2 separate regions of the Homo sapiens genome follow, and region 2 is linked to region 1. The links come from fine-mapping of genetic effects on gene expression. Tissue or cell type: monocytes. Region 1 holds a variant in brackets; the other region holds the start of a gene. All regions are shown on one strand. Distances are from middle to middle.

Evidence for each region. PIP is the estimated chance that this variant, and not a neighbour inherited with it, causes the effect.
Region 2: it holds the start of WNT5B, and the variant in region 1 is fine-mapped to the expression of WNT5B in monocytes (Quach 2016, PIP 0.95).

The regions. Positions count from the first base shown.
Region 1 is chr12:1,397,033-1,405,293 of GRCh38, reverse strand. The region is part of intron 16 of ERC1 (ELKS/RAB6-interacting/CAST family member 1); the gene reads right to left. Among named protein-coding and RNA genes, the nearest start is that of LINC00942, 99 kb to the left of the region's middle. The variant A/G (reference allele first, on the strand shown) is at 3,240.
Region 2 is chr12:1,624,752-1,632,751 of GRCh38, reverse strand. It overlaps WNT5B (Wnt family member 5B), which reads right to left and starts at 3,521. Exons shown (of 5, transcript NM_032642.3): 1 at 3,381-3,521; 2 at 1,318-1,454; 3 at 1-94. The coding sequence starts at 1,397. RefSeq lists an enhancer at 1,794-1,893 and silencers at 2,075-2,369, 2,324-2,383, 2,414-2,603.

The sequences.
Region 1 (8,261 bases):
CCGATTAATAAATTATCTGTGAATCAAATTTCTCTTTTCTGGGAGGACCCCCAGAGACCTTTGCTATGGTCTGAATGTTTGTGTTCCCCCCAATTTTATATTATTTTATTTATATTTATTTATTTATTTATTTATTTATTTATTTATATTTTTTGAGCCGGAGTCTCGTTCTCTTGCCCAGGCTGGAATGCAGTGGCGAGATCTCAGCTCGCTGCAACTTTTGCCTCCTGGGCTCAAGCAATTCTCTTGCCTCAGACTCCCAAGTAGCTCGGATTAGAGGCACACACCACCACGCTGGCTATTTTTTTTGTATTTTTAGTAGAGACAGGGTTTTGCTATGCTGGCCTGGCTGGTCTCAAACTCCTGACCCCAAGTGATCAGCCTGCCTCAGCCTCCCAAAGTGCTGGGATTACAGGCATGAGCCACTGCGCCCGGCTCTCCCCACATTTAGATGTTGAAACTTAACCTTTGATTTGGTGGTATTATGAAATGGGCCTTTTGGAGATGATTAGGTCAGAGGGTGGAACCCTCATGAATGAGATTAGCATCCCTGTAAAAAAGGCCTGAGGGTACTATGCAATATACCCAGGGAACAAACCTGTGTATGCATCCCCCGAATCTAAAATAAAAGTTGAAAATAAAAAGAAAATAACGAGGAACAAGGTTCTATGGCCAAAGTTTGTACTTTGATTTGGGAGATGTAAATATCTAGTTCTATCACTGGTAGGAAACTGAACTCCTAAAGAGGACAGTGTCTCACTCAAAAGAGAAAATATGAAAATAATGTTTTTCTTCTGTTTTTGCTCTCCCAGCACACTTTGCTTGTGAGACCAACTATCGATTTTTTCATATAGAACTGTTATCTCCATTATCAAACTGGTGGCAAATAACATACTTTTTTTTTTTTTTGCAAACAGTAGTTGTTCAAAGGATTATTGCAAATGAATGAATAAGTAAATGGATGAGTAAATAAATGAATGAATAAATAAATGGATGAGTAAATAAATAAATGTATCCATTATACTTGGAAAAAGGCCCGAGGGAGCCCGTTTGCCCTTCTGCAGTGTGAAGATGCAGTGAAGCAGCATTATCTACGAAGCCGAGAGCAAGCCCTCATCAGACACCGAATCTGCTGCTGCCTTGATCTTGCACTTCTGGTCTCCAAAATGGTGAGCAATAAATTTCTATTGTTTATAAATTACTCAGTCTGAGTTATTTTGTTATAGCAGTCTGAATGGACTAAGACAATCTTGAAAAGATGTAGGCTAATTTTTCTTATGGCATGTGGTATTTCATGACAAAGTCTTCTGCAAAGCAGCTCTCAGAAAAAAGGAAAATAGAAGAAAGGAAAGAGGCATATACAGAAAGTGAGCGAAACATCTGTATCATGTCATTCAATTGGTTAAGAAACCTTTCCATGTTGACTTTAACAGGAATGTGGGTGAAAGTAGACTTGGCTAGTTATTTTCTTAGAACATGAGACAATCTTTAATATCTGATATCTAGCATAAGTTTAAAAACTTAAAAAGAAATCCTAATAAAGTACACACAAATCCATTTTCAAGGCAGAACGCATTTAAAGTACTTCTTAGGAGTGAGTACGTATGCCTGCCTGAAAAAAACTGATCCAAGTGGACAGATAAGACCAAAGATTCCTTATTTGATCCACGTCAGAGAATGAAAAAAACAGTTGTAAGAACTTACTTCTCCATTTCCAAAAAGACACGAAGATGATCAAAGTTTAGTGTTCCTAGGTCTAGTATGAAGAAACTTGGTGTGAAGTCTGTTCCCTGCATAGTTATGATGTTGAGCACTAAATATCTGACAGCTCACAGAGCATTAGATGTTACACAGATCATATAAATGACTCTGTGCTCTTAAGGGGCTCTCATAGTATGCTCTTCTCAAGATAAGACCAAAAAGCAAAAGGAGTAATTCCTTCATGTTTTACTGACATGAAAGATATTTTATATCCAAATGTTTTTCCTCTTGAACCGTGCCAGGTGCATGTGCAGGGAGATGAAACCCCTGGTCCCAACGACATAAAGAATAACGTTGTCTGAAGGAAGGAAGGGGGAAAAAAAAGGAAGAAGGGAAGAAGGAAGAAACTTGCTGAAATAGACTTCTTTGCTATCAATGTATATCTCCAGGTATACATACCCTCCCAGAGGAAAAAGGAGTTAGTTGTCTATTCTGTTAATTTTTTCTTCTACGACAAAAATGTCAATGTCCAAAATGTTAAAATAACTTGTTACAGAAACTACATTTCATAGAAGAATACATAAGCTAAGAGACAGGATAGGTTATCCAAACGCAGCTATTAAAAGAAAAAGTTTAAATTCTAATTAGATTTGTGTTTTAGTATTGATAAAAAAAATCTGAGAGTTCAGTTGCAGGTTCTATTAACCAGAATAAAAGCAGACTAATTAATTCTTTAGTAATAGAAGTCTGAAGGGACATCAGATTAAGTCACTGTTAAAATTATTATAATATCTGGTCTTTTCTTCATGAACAATCTGTCTCACTATGTATTTCACATCTAATTAAGTCATTAAATCCTCTCTAAGAGCTAGCTTTTAGTTTCACTGATCTTCTCTTACAGCTTGTTTTCTATTTCATTTAATTTGTTTTTATTTTCTTTGTTCTTTTGTGTGTGTGTGTGTGTGTGTGTGTGTGTGTTGGGGGTTACACAGATATTCTTTTTCTATTTCTTGATTTGGATGCTTAGCTCATTACTGTTCTTTCTTTTTTTCTTTCTCTTTCTTTTTTTTGAGACAGTCTCTCTCTCTGTCACCCAGGCTGGAGTGCAGTGGTGTGATCTCGGCTCACTACAACCTCCGGGTTCAAGCGATTCTCCTTTCTCAGCCTCCTGAGTAGCTGAGATTACAGATGCCCGCCACCATGCCCAGCTAACTTTTGTATTTTTAGTAGAGACGGGGTTTCATCATGTTGGCCAGGCTGGTTTTGAACTCCTGACCTCAAGTGATCCACCTGCCTTGGCCTCCCAAAGTGCTGGGATTACGGCGTGAGCCACCGTGCCCAGCCTTTTCATTTTCAATTTTATATATGTGTTAAGAGTATAAATTTTCCTCCAAGAACTGCTTTAGCAGCATCTCACAAATTTTGATATAAAGTGTTTTTCCCTGTTCTAAATATTTTGCAATTTCTCTTTTTTACAATATTTGCAATTTCCTTATTTTCTAATTTGCAAAATCTGTAATTTCCAGTTTTTTAAATGT[A/G]TACTTTCCTATTTTGCAATATTGGTCCTTCTGAATTTCCCCTATGGTCTTTCTCAAAACTCCTATCAGATGAATGTACCTTCTCAGTCTGTTTTCCATGTCTCCTAATCTCTCTTTGATATTTTCAATTTTGTTTTATCCTTCTGCACTGCATTTTGGATAATTTCGGCAGAATCTTCAAGTTCATTAATTCTCCTTTCATATACGTTAACTTGCCACTAAGTTTTTAATTGAATAACTAGATTTATTGATTATTTGGTAAATCTACGTGTACTTTTAAAAATACTCTTTTTTTTTTTTTTTTTTACCGCCCTCCCTTCAAAAATAGTCAATTTCCAAGCCAACATTTACTGAATACTTACTAAGTGCCAAGTATTCTGAGAGCTTTAGGTAATTTAATCCTCATAGCAACAATATGAAGTTGGTACAATTTGCATGTCAATTTTATTGAGGTACAGAGAGCCTAAATAACTTAGCGACATTCATATGATGAATAAGTCACAGGGCTAGAGCTCTAATACAAACAGTCTAGCTTCAGAGCCTGTTCTCCTTTTAAAACTAAAATAATTATATTTTATATGGAGAATTTCCAAACATACACCAGAGGAAAGAACAGAAAAAACCCATACATCCATGTCCTCCTTCAGAAACGATTCTACTGCTCTACCTGCTTCCTTTATCCTCCCTCCCCTTTATTTGCTACAGCATTTCTTCTTCTACTACTATGACTACTGCTACTATTAGTGCTACTTCTATTACTGCTTCTTCAATTTTTGAGAGAACTGTAAATTCACATGGTGTTTTAAAAAATACAAAAATAGGGCTGGGCGCGGTGGCTCACGCCTGTAATCCCAGCACTTTGGAAGGCTGAGACGGGCGGATCACAAGGTCAGGAGATGGAGACCATCCTGGCTAACACGTGAAACCCCGTCTCTACTAAAAATACAAAAAATTAGCCGGGCGCAGCGGTGGGCGTCTGTAGTCCCAGCTACTCGGGAGGCTGAGGCAGGAGAATGGCGTGAACCCGGGAGGTGGAGCTTGCAGTGAGCCCAGATCACGCCACTGCACTCCAGCCTGGGCGATAGAGCAAGACTCCGTCACAAAAAAAAAAAAAAAAAAAAAAAAAAAAAAAAAAAAATACAAAAATAGCCAAAACAATATTGAATGAGAAGAATAAAGTTAGGAAGACTCATACTTTCTGATTTCAGATCCTACAGTAAATAGTAGGTTTACCTACAGTGTGTTATCAGCATAAAGATGGACAAAGAAATCAATGAAACAAAATTGAGAGTCCAGAAACAAATCATCATTTTTTTATGGTCAACTGATTTCCAGTAAGGGTACCAAGACAATCTAATGGAGAAAGAATACTCTTTTCATCCCATGGTGTGGGACAAATAGAAATAGACATGCAAAGAAAATGATGTCAAACTCATTAAGTCTCAGTCTCAGAACATATAAAAGAATAAACTCAAAATGGGCCAAAGAGCTAAATGGAAGAGCTAAAACTATAAAACTCTTAGAACAAAACATAAGAGTAAATCTTTGAGGCCTGGGTTAGGCAGTGATTTCTTGGATAATATACCCAAAGAGCGAAAGCGGCAAAAGAAAAAAAAATAAATCGGAGCACATCAAAATTTATAAAATTTTATGCTGTAAACAGTATCAACAAGAAAGTGAAAAGAGAACGACAGGATGGGAGAACATATTTATAAATCATATATATGATAAAGGACTTGTGTCTAGAACTCTTACAACTCAATAATAAAAATACAAATACCCCAATTAAAAATGAGCAAGGGATTTGAATCTTTTCAATCAACAAAGAAGATTCACAAATAGGCAGTAAGCACAAGAAAAGATGTGCAACACCAATAGGGAAATGCGTATCAAAGCCACAGTGATCTACAGGAACAACGGAGAAGCAATACAATATAAAACAAAACAAACAAAACCCCATAATGAGATACCACATCACATCCACCAGGGTGGCTATTAAAAGTCAATAACAAGTGTTGGTGAGAATGTGTAGGGACGGTCATATATTGCTGGTGGGATTGTAGAGTGGTAAGGTCTCTTTGCAAAACATTTTGGTAGTTCCTTAAAATGGCAAACATACAATTACCATATGACTTAGCAATTCCAATCCTAGGTATATACTCAAGATAACTGAAAACGTGTTTCCATGCAAAAAAGCACCCACAAATGTTCACGGCATCATTATTTATTATAGTCAAAAAAGAGGAACAACCCAAATATCCAACAACTTATGAATGGATACATAAAATCTGGCATATCCATATAATGAGCTATTAGCCATAAAAAGGAATGAAGTACTGATACATGCTACAAGTATCAATGAACCTTGAAAACATGATGCCAAGTTAAAGAAGTCCTGCAAAAGGCAACATAGTATATTATTTCACTTATATGAAATCTCCAGAATAGGCAAATCTATATATAGAGAAAGTAGATCAGTGGTTGCCAGGCCTGGGGGAAAGGGACAATGGCTACATTTAACAATTTGAGCAGCAAAATCAATAATGCTTTCAATTTGTGAAAATGTATTTAATATATAAAAAGCGATGACACTGAAATAATACTAGAAAAAGATACTTTAAAAAATAGGGTATTGTAGTGATGGTTACACATTTCTGTGATTTACTAAACAATATGGAATGGCATATTTTAAACGGGTAAATTGCATGGGATGTGAATCATATCTCAATAAAGGTATATAAAATAAGCCAATGTGCAGCCATGTAAGTAAATAATGCTTTTGCTCTTAAAAAATATTAAGAGAGGGCAGGCGTGATGGCTCACACGTGTAATCCCAGCACTTTGGAATGCTGAGGTGGGAGGACTGCTTGAGCCTATAAGTTTGAGACCAGCCTGGGCAACATAACCAGACCCTGTATCTACAAAAAAATAAAAAAAAATTGCTGGGCATGATGTCACATGCCTGTGTGTAGTCCCAGGTACTTTGGAGGCTGAGGTGGGAGGATTGCTTGAGCCCAGAAGGTCAAGGCTGCCTTGGGTCATGATCGCACCATTGCTCTCCAGCCTGGTTGACAGAGTGAGACCTTGTTTCAACAAAAAAAAAAAAAAAAAAAAAAAAAAAAAAGTAGGAGAAAAGAAAATAAACTCATTTGTCAGCACTGAAGTTTACTAGGGAACTCATTACATAAACAAATGAGTAAATGAATAGATGTGTGCAAGGACAAAGCGTCCCTGCCCTCTGGAGGATACAGCAACAAGGTACCATCTTAAAAGTCAAAAGCGGCCCTTACCAGACAACCAAACCTGCTGGTGCCTTGATCTTAGACTTCCCAGTTCCAGAACTGTGAAAAAATAAATTTCTGTTCTTTATAATCTACCTACCTACCGACTTTGTTATAGCAGCATACCATACACAGACTAAGTGGGAAACCACAATCCGGCTGTGGGGTGTTTATTATTTATCATTTCTTCTAGTCTGGTTCAGTCAGAGATAGGAAATAAATATTTTTTTAAAAGGGAGAAAATTATTGGTTAACAGTAATGTTTTAAATTCAGATTTAAGATTACAGATCTCAGTCTTGAAGACTGGGTTTACTAAACTACTTTGATTTTATACTTTATATTTTTTTCTCTTATGCTGAAAAATTTTGGTTCCTAACAATAACATAATTACTTGTTATTTGTTTTCTCTAACAATATAATGCTTTTAAAATTCAAAACCAATACAATTACTATCAATATGCCTTCAGGATGAACTCTAAAATCTATTTGGGCTGGGCACGGTGGCTCACGTCTACAATTCCAGCACTTTGGGAGGCTGAGGAGGGAGGATCACTTGAGCCCAGGAGTTTGAGACCAGCCTGGGCAACATGGTGAAACCCCATCTCTACAAAAAATACAAAAACTAGCCAGACACGGTGGCATGTGCCCGCAGTCCCAGCTACTTGGGAGGCTGAGGTGGGAGGATCGATTGAGCCTGGGAGGTTGAGGCTGCAGTGAGTGGTGACTGTGCCCCTGCGCTCCAGCCTGGGAGAGAGTGAGACCACTAAAAAAAACTTCGCATTTTTGTTCTTTTACTTGGAGTTTATCCTACTGAGATGTACAGAGAAAAATCTGTATTATAAAGTTAGCTGAAATAATTATTTGCTCAATGTGAATGTCAACAATTTAATATATAATTAGATTCATTTGTTTCTGTTTGTTTTTAAATTTCAAGGACTGCTTTTTTCCTTTTTTCAGATCTAATTTTATTTTTGATTATGTAATACATTCATTTGATTCTAGAGTCAAAACTATATAACTAGGTATAATCACAGAAGGCTTGCTTCCACCCCTGTCTCCTCTATCCTGTTCCCTCCTTTTTAGAGGTAACTTTTTTGGGTAAATTTTTGATTTGTCTTTCAATTGTTTCTTCTTGCAATTATTAGCAATCATATACTCATATAATTGCACATGTTCCCCCTTTTCTTACATAAAAAGTAATATGTTAAATACATTATTCTGCATCTTGCTTTTTCATTTAACAGTATGTTCTGGGAATCGCTCCATATCAATAGAGATCTTTCTCATCCCTTTCTACAGCTGCACAGTATTCCACTCTGATGGATATACTATAATTGACAACAAATATCCCACTGTGGCACAACTGGGTTATTTTGAATCTGTTGCTATTATAAATATTATAGCAATGAATTTCCTTGTGTATATGTTATTTTGTATTTTTGAAGATGTGTCTGTGGGACCAATTTCTAGAAGTAAAGCTTCTGGGTCACAAAGTCAACGCACAGATAAGCAATGTTACTACATATTGCCAAACTGCCTCTATAAGAGGTCTACATTTTGCATTCCCACCAGGAGAGTATCAGAGTTCCCAATGTGCACAGCCTGCTTAATTGAGTGTGTTGTTAAATTCTCGATTTTGGTCACAAAGCACCTCAGCTTGCCATTATCTTACTATGAATGGGTAAGGACCATGTACATTTCTTTCTTTGTGATCTTCAGGTAGGAACTTCCCAGACAAGT
Region 2 (8,000 bases), 230 kb before region 1:
CTGGCCAGGGGAGAGCCCGGGAAGCTGACTGCACACGGGCTGGGCACCGATGATAAACATCTCGGGTCTCTGCACCGGGTTCAAAGCTAATGACCTAGGACAGCAATCCAGAAAGGGGAAAAAAAGGCCCAGGAGTGAGCATACGCCTGTGTGCAGCATTAAGTCATTCATTCAACACATTTATTGAATGCGTCCCTGTGTACAAGGCCCTGGAAAGAAAAATTAGTAAATCAGAGTGCTGGCCTTCAAAGGACAAACTGAAGGAATCTGAGGCATGAACACAAAGGACATGCGAGATGCCAAATGCCCCAGACAGACTCTGGATATGCTTCTGGATCTGCTGTGATCAGATAGGAAAATAGCCCTTATGGCTGAAGAGAAGCCTTTATAAGGAAATGGCCAGAATTTGAACTGGATCTTAAGAATGGGGGTCAGGCAGATAAGAAGACGAGGGGTGGGGAGCAGCTCTTCATTTTAATAGAGGGCAAAAAGAGCCAAACCTCAACAGGAGAGCACAGGCCTCATTCAATGAGTAGGAGTGACTAGTTCAGTGCAGCCCAAGTACATGATAAGCCATGGAAAGCAATCAATCCTTTGCGTGGTACTCCCTTTGGGCCTTTAAAATCCAATCACTTTACATACATCACGATCTAGTCTACTTGTTTTCACTGCCATGTCTCACTTTGAGCTTCCCCTCATCCACTCTCCACCAGTTCAGAGGCTCTCCCTTTTGCTCATCATCTACCAGCCATATAGAGTGTTAGATGAGAAGGCTGCAGATTTGCTATCTGAGTAAAAATGCTAGTGGCAGAGACCATGCAAAATAGGTGGTGATCGCCTGCCATTTCCCTGTCAACTTGGCAATGACAACAGCCCTTAAAACATAAGAAGAAAGCCAGCCACCCATGGTGCTGTGAACCCCTCATCTGGCCTTCAGACTTATAAAAGAGGAATTCTATATCCTACCAGCAAAACACACAAAACAAAGGAACAAAAAACTACCAAGTATTGATATTCTTGTTGACCCAAGAGCAATTTCTAACAATTCATGGGCATGAGGGAAGGTCCAAGGAAAAGGAATGTGGACAGGATTAGAGAAAAAAATCAAATGAACGGAACCTTTATCCTCAGGGAACCCTTACAAAGATAAGGGTTGAGAGAGACACAGAGCGTTCTTAGTTTTCCTGGGATAAAAGAGGCCCTTAGTACTCCCAGGAATCAAGGTACTACCGTGACACACGGTGCCCTTCCTCCTCATCTCAGTCGCTGAAGGAGGCCTCCGGCTGTGCAGGCAGGACCTCAGCCCCTCTTACTCACCACCAGGAGTTGGCGTCTGTCAGAAGCTGAGCCCAGCTGGACAGCAGAGCAGCCGTGAACAGCAGCAGCAGGCTGGGCATGGTCGGCCTCAGCCCTCCCCAGTGCCCTGGGACTGACAGTTTCCAGAGTAGGGTTCCCTGGAGAAAACAGAAATGGAGAGTCAGTGTGGAAACTCAGCGGATAAGGGCAGACCAGGAGCCGGGGTGAGGCGGAGAAAGTTGCACTGATGCTTACGTGCTGCGTGTTCCCCACAAAGAAGCTCGGCCTCTTTCCAGCCTCCGCCTCCCACTGCTCATCTTCCCACCCTAGGACTTCTGTCTCTTACCCCAAACTGTGGGAACCCTGCACAGGACCTAATTTCCAAAGAAATAATGAGCTGAGAAACCACAAAGAGAAATGAAAACAAGTAATTTCAAGAGCGGAGCTTGCGGCGTTCCTCCGTTCGGCAGCCGGGAGGCCACTTCGGCTGTTGTAAAGCATACCTGTCCTTGCTGCAGAACATCCAAAGAAATGGGGCCCATCCTATCCACTCCCCCACGTGCCTACCTCTCATTCCAGCCCAGAGACTTATTTCTCTGACCCTCAGGCTCTCCTTTGTAGGATTAAAACATTTTGGTGAATTGGATTTACCTGCACCCAGGGAGGAGTCTCCCCTCTCCATCTGCGCCCTTCTCACCCTCAGCGGGTTTCCTAAGTCCCAACCCCTGCGTACAGATCAAGGACTTTTCACTTTCTCAAGGCAGCTTCTCTGAGAAATGTACAAGCCACGCCGCGAACCGCCCGCCCGGAAAGCTCTGGCGGCTGAGGTGGTGCCTCCCTAGGCGGCCCCTGCCCCTCCCGGCACCGTGGTCCTCGAGGGCGGCACCGAGTACCTTGCCCAGCAGCTGCACCGGGGACACTGCCGACGCCAGGCGGCAGCTCTGGCATCAAATGCCTGAGCTGAGGACGCATCTTCCAGATGCCACAGCCCTTCCCTGCTGGCTCCCGGGCCTCCCGCCTCTTGGCCTCCTGCCTGCTGTAACCCACGCCTGTTCCTCTATCCGCCCCCGAGAGCCCCTGTCCCCAGGCCCTGGGACCCGCAGCAGGTCAGTGCTGCTAGAGCGAGCCTGCGCCTCGGGACACACGGCCCCTGCGGCTCCCCCGCGGTCCTCCGGGGCCCCCGTCTGGGCGTGACCCGCGCCCCCAGCGGCCTCCCCGGGGCCCCGGACCTGACGAGCGCAGCCCCGCGCGCCCCGGCTCACTGCGCCACTCTCGCGCGTCGGCGTCCCCAGGCTCCCCGGGAGGGGGCGGCGGGTGCTTCGGGTCATCAGCCCGGGAAGTATTTTTGTCCTGGGGCCGCCAGGAGAGGACAGTGGCCCGAGCAGGGTCCAGGAGAGCTGGGACACAGCCCTTCCCCAAGCCCCCTTTTGATTTTCCTTCTCGAAGCCTCGGCTGGGGCGGGGGCACCAACAGGCAGGTGTGTGGGGCCGGCAGGGGGCAGATCAAAGAAGACACTTGCTCCTTCCCCTTTGTCATGCAGAGCCAGCTCGGAAGTGAGCCGGCCCCCAGCCCGGGACTAACAGCTTCCACGCCCGACTCCCCTCAGACCCCCCCTCCTCTGGAGGATGCCCCTCCCCCTCTCCTCTCCCCCCATAAATCCTCCTCGTCCCCCGGGGCAGAAGGTCTGTGAATGCACCGGCTGGAACCACGAGAGATGGAGCAGAGATAGGGCTGGCACCAGGAGCTAATGGTTTTATGGAGGGGAGGCGACCAGGTCCCGAGTAGGGAGGACGAGAGAAAAGCTTCAAAGCGTTTCCTTGTCCAAATATCCTTAACTCCACCTACCAGTCCTTCCCGGGGTTGCAGAGCTAGGGCCGCCCGTGCCCTCCTGCTTCTCCAGCCTCCTCCCCGCGGCCCCGAAGCCTCCTGCCCAGCCTATGCCCAGCCCGTGCCCAGCCCACCACCCTGCCGCCCGCAACACCTACTCTCCCTGGGGACTTTGATCCTCACACATTTCCACCACCAGATAGCGGAGTTCTTCCTCCCCGCCTGTGACACTTGTCCCTCACACCAGTGCCTCTCACCTCTGTCACCCGTCCATCAGGCTCCAGTGGAATCTCTCTGGTCCTGCAGTTCCTAGGTTCAAACTAGGCTACATTGGGGGCCACCGTTTCCGAGCCAAAGACAGGCCTGGGTGCCTGCTAATGGTCACTGTGGCTGTGACTGCCCCCAGGACAGGCTGACACGGTAACTAGAGCCAGACTTCCCAGGAGCTGCTAATCCCGCCCTCAGTGCCTTATAAACATATATGGAGACAAGAATCACTCCCGCAGCTGTTTCTACTCCATCCCCCGCCCCGGGCTTTCCACGAGGCGGCTCTCAGCCCATTAAAAATGTTTTTTTTTTTAAAAATTGCCCCCCAAAATGGCTCTAACATGTGCAGTGGCTTCTTTCTCTGACTTCCAGATGTGTGGTACCTGAAACTGAACTCCCCCATACACACATATGCACGCGCGCGTGCACACACACACACACAACACACACACCAGCCCCCTCAGGACGCTCTCTGTCCTGGCAGACAGATGCGAGCCAATTCTTGAGTGGCCATAGAACTGAAGCCAGGCAGCTGTTTGCCCTCTCTTACATTCTTGTGCTGGGGTGGGCTGGGGTGGGAGGAGAAAGGACCCCTTAGAAAGGTAAATGCTGGCGACTGGTTTCATCAGCATGGGCAGAATGGAAATTTCTTGCCTCAACCCGACTGGGAAGGCAGGAAGCTGTATGGGGGCTGACGGTTTTGTGTTAATGAGCAGGTCACATTGGGACCCCTGTTTGTGGGTCACTAGTGAGATTTATAGCAGGATTCAACCAGGGGAGGCTCTCCTTGTGTAGGAAGAAAGATCTGGTAAATGCCCAACAGGCAGGAAAAGGCCTTTGCAATAACTACAGATTTCCCCAGGGTCTAAAAAGATTCCCCTTCCTAAGAGGCAAGTGTCAATTCAAACATACCAAACACAGTAGTTAAGAATGCGGGGCTCTTCGGGGGGCCAAGGTGGGCAGATCACCTGAGGTCAGGAGTTCGAGACCAGCCCGGCCAACATGGTGAAAGCTCACCTGTAATAAAAAAGTATAAAAATTAGCCAGATGTGGTGGCACATGCCTGCAGTCGCAGCTACTTGGGAGGCTGAGGCAGGAGAATCGCTTGAACCTGGGAGGTGGAGGTTGCAGTGAGCCAAGATAGCACAACTGCACTCCAGCCGGGTGACAGAGCAAGACTCCATCTCAAAAAAAAAAAAAAGTGGGAGTCAGGGTCTCTATTCTTTAGTAGTAGTGACTAGGAGGCTGTGGGGAGGGAAAGATGCAAAATTCCCAATCAGGATCCTTCCAGAAGCCAGAATGAGCTGGTCAGACATCTGCTCTGTTCCTCCTCTTCATTCATCCATGCAGCCATTCAATACATTCATTAATCAAATGAATTACACCCTGGGTGCCTAATATGTGCCAGTTACTGCTCTAAGTGCCAGAGACATGGCAGTGAACAAACAAATGTATCATAAGTTAGGTCCAGTGAATACTATGAGGAAAATAAAGAGGGGACCAGAATCAAGAATGGGAAGGGGTGGTAGCATACTTGATGTAGGGTTCTTGGGAAGACTACTCTCTGAAATATCTGTGCCCCCAAAACCACTGTGTAGGCAGGATGGTGGGAGGGGATGTAACGATGCTACACCTCCAAGACCCCCTCTAGAGCACATCCAAGGTCCCTGCTGAGATGGCACTGTCCCACTTCACCATCACAACCAAAGAGGTGCGTGTTGGAAGACAGGAACTCCAAGATCTCCTCCTTTTTCTGCTAGGACTCAGTCACTCACTTTCATTTCCTTAAGGGGCCATGTCCATCCAGCCTAGAGTTAAGAGACCAAAAAGAGAGACCGGGACAGGTAAAGCTGAGACCCCAAGCAACTCTGTGCTTTCCACCATACTTCAGAGCAGTGCCTGAAACAACATCTCTGCCCCACAGGATGAGGGGTTGATTTCAGGTCATTAGCCATTCACACAAACCCACTGATATCTAGAACTGACTTCCCCAGCACCCAGGGACTCAAGCATCTCAAGACTCCTGCAGGAAATGGAGCCACCTCCCACATCTGCCCCTCTCCTCAGACAGGCACCGTCACATCCAGAAACCTGTCCAGAAATAGCCACGAGCCTAGGTGGGGACCTCTTCAAGGGTGCTGAGCAGGCCTCCTTTGTCACTGAGGCCACACCTTCCAAGATGCCTTCCCTGACCATCCCTCCCAGAGAAGGCCCCCATCGCCATTATTCTACTTCTAGCTTCTTGCATGTTTTAGCCGCAGCATTTAATGTGCCATGGAATAGTGTGGCGTGCTCATCTGTTGTGGTTTTGTTTCTTTCCCTCATATGCTCTGGAAACGGTCTTATTTACCATTTTTCTCCCCAGTGGATAGGATAGTACACAGGGGTATGTGGGAGTTGCTAGAAAAATATTTGTTGACTGAAAGAAAAGAAAAGCACTCTTACTTGGTCACCCAGTGGGGAGCTATAGAATGTGTAATTTAAAAATACATTTGGCGGCCGGGCGCAGTGGCTCACAACTGTAACCCCAGCACTTTGGGAGGCCGAGGCGGGCAGATCATGAGGTCAGGAGATCGAGACCATCCTGGCTAACACGGTGAAACCCCGTCTCTACTGAAAATACAAAAAAATTAGCCCAGTGTGGTGGCGGGCGCCTGTAGTCCCAGCTACTCAGGAGGCTGAGGCAGGAGAATGGCGTGAACCTGGGAGGCGGAGCGTGCAGTGGGTCAAGATCGTGCCACTGCACTCCAGCCTGGGCGATAGAGTGAGACTCCGTCTGAAAAAAAAAAAAATACACTTGGCCTGGAGTAGTGGCTCACGCCTGTAATCCCAGCACTTTGCGAGGCCGAGGCAGGTGGATTACCCGAGGTCAGGAGTTCGAGACCAGCCTGATCAACATGGAGAAACCCTGTCTCTACTAAAAATACAAAATTAGCCAGGCACGGTGGCACATACCTGTAATCCCAGCTACTCGGGAGGCTGAGGCAGGAGAATTGCTTGAACTCGGGAGGTGGAGGTTGCAGTGAGCTGAGACTGCGCCATTGCACTCCAGCCTGGGCAACAAGAGTGAAACTCTGTCTCAAAAAAAAAAAAATACACTTGTGGCCAGGTGCAGTAGCTCACACCTATAATCCCAGCACTTTGAGAGGCTGAGGTGGGAGGCTTGCTTGAGCCCAGGAGTTCAAGACCAGCCTAGGCAACACAGTGAGACCCTGTCTCTACAAAAAAATCTAAAGTTAGCCGAGCATGGTGGTGCCTGGGAGGCTGAGGCCAGAGGATCGCTTGAGCCCAGGAGTTCAAGGCTGTAGTGAGTCGTGATTGTGCTATTGCACTTCAGCGTGGGTGACAGATTGAGACCCTGCCTCAAAAAAAAAAAAAAAAAGAGAGAGAAAAAAAACAGGCAGGGTGCGGTGGCTCATGCCTGTAATCCTAGCGCTTCGGGAGGCTGAGGCAGGTGGATCACTTGAGGTCAGGAGTTTGAGACCAGCCTGGCCAACATGGCAACACCTATCTCTACTAAAAATACAAAAATTAGCTGGGCGTGGTGATGGGTGCCTGTAATTCCAGATACTTGGGAGGCTGAGGCAGGAGAATCGCTTGAACCTGGGAAGTGGAGCTTGCAGTGAGCCGAGATTGCACCACTGCACTCCAGCCTGTGTGACAAAGTGAGACTCCGTCTCAAAAAAAAGAGAAAAAACAAAAGAATAAAAGTACATTTGCAATTTTGTTAACATTCCTGGCATAACAGGGTAAACCATCTTAGCAGTCTTTGGAAAGGAAATGCTTCCCTTTGTGAACTCCTGGCTGCATTGCTGTTGAAGGAGGGGCCTCAGACTGGATGATTTCCATGGGACAGGGGAGGGGCAGGTGGAGGAGGAGCAGGCCTTGCTAGCTGGAGTCCTGTGGCTTCTCTCCCTTTGGCCACTCATTTCTCGTACTGTAGAGAAAGACTGTTTATGGACCTCAGCACAATAGACAAATACCTCCTAAAATGTACATCAGGTTCACTCATTTCCTTCCCAATTTCCAGGTGAGTACTCACCCTTCTGGCATCTGAACACCAGAGTAGTTCTTCGTGGTCTCACTCACAAGTGCACATAGACACAATACCAGTTTTCCCTAAAATACTAATTTTACATCATAATATTCCCCTATTTGAAAACGTATAGTGGTTCCCAGTTCTTTATTTCCAATGTGGCCTCATCTTACCTCTCATTGTTTTCCTGAATTTCCCAACATGAAGTCTCCTTTTCCAATGTCCTTCTACTCCTAGAACAAACCCCACTTTTCCCCCAAGACCTCATTCTGATCCTCTTCCCAAGGAAGCATTCTCCTCTGCTCTGCAGCAATCCAGATATTAAACTACTTTCACATCCAGGCTCAAGATTCACTCCCTCCATAAAACTGTGCTTGATTAACCCCACCCCATGAGAATCTCATTCTCATGGGTTGAGACCGAAGAGGTCTCAACCTCTTCGGCCCTTATGAATCCATGTATCTGGTCTGCACCTCCCTACCCCACTTATGCTGCCTTGGGCTGTTTCTCAGGTGAAGTATATACTTCTTACTTCTCTAGTAGATCAAATGCTTCCTAAAGGTTCAAACTTACC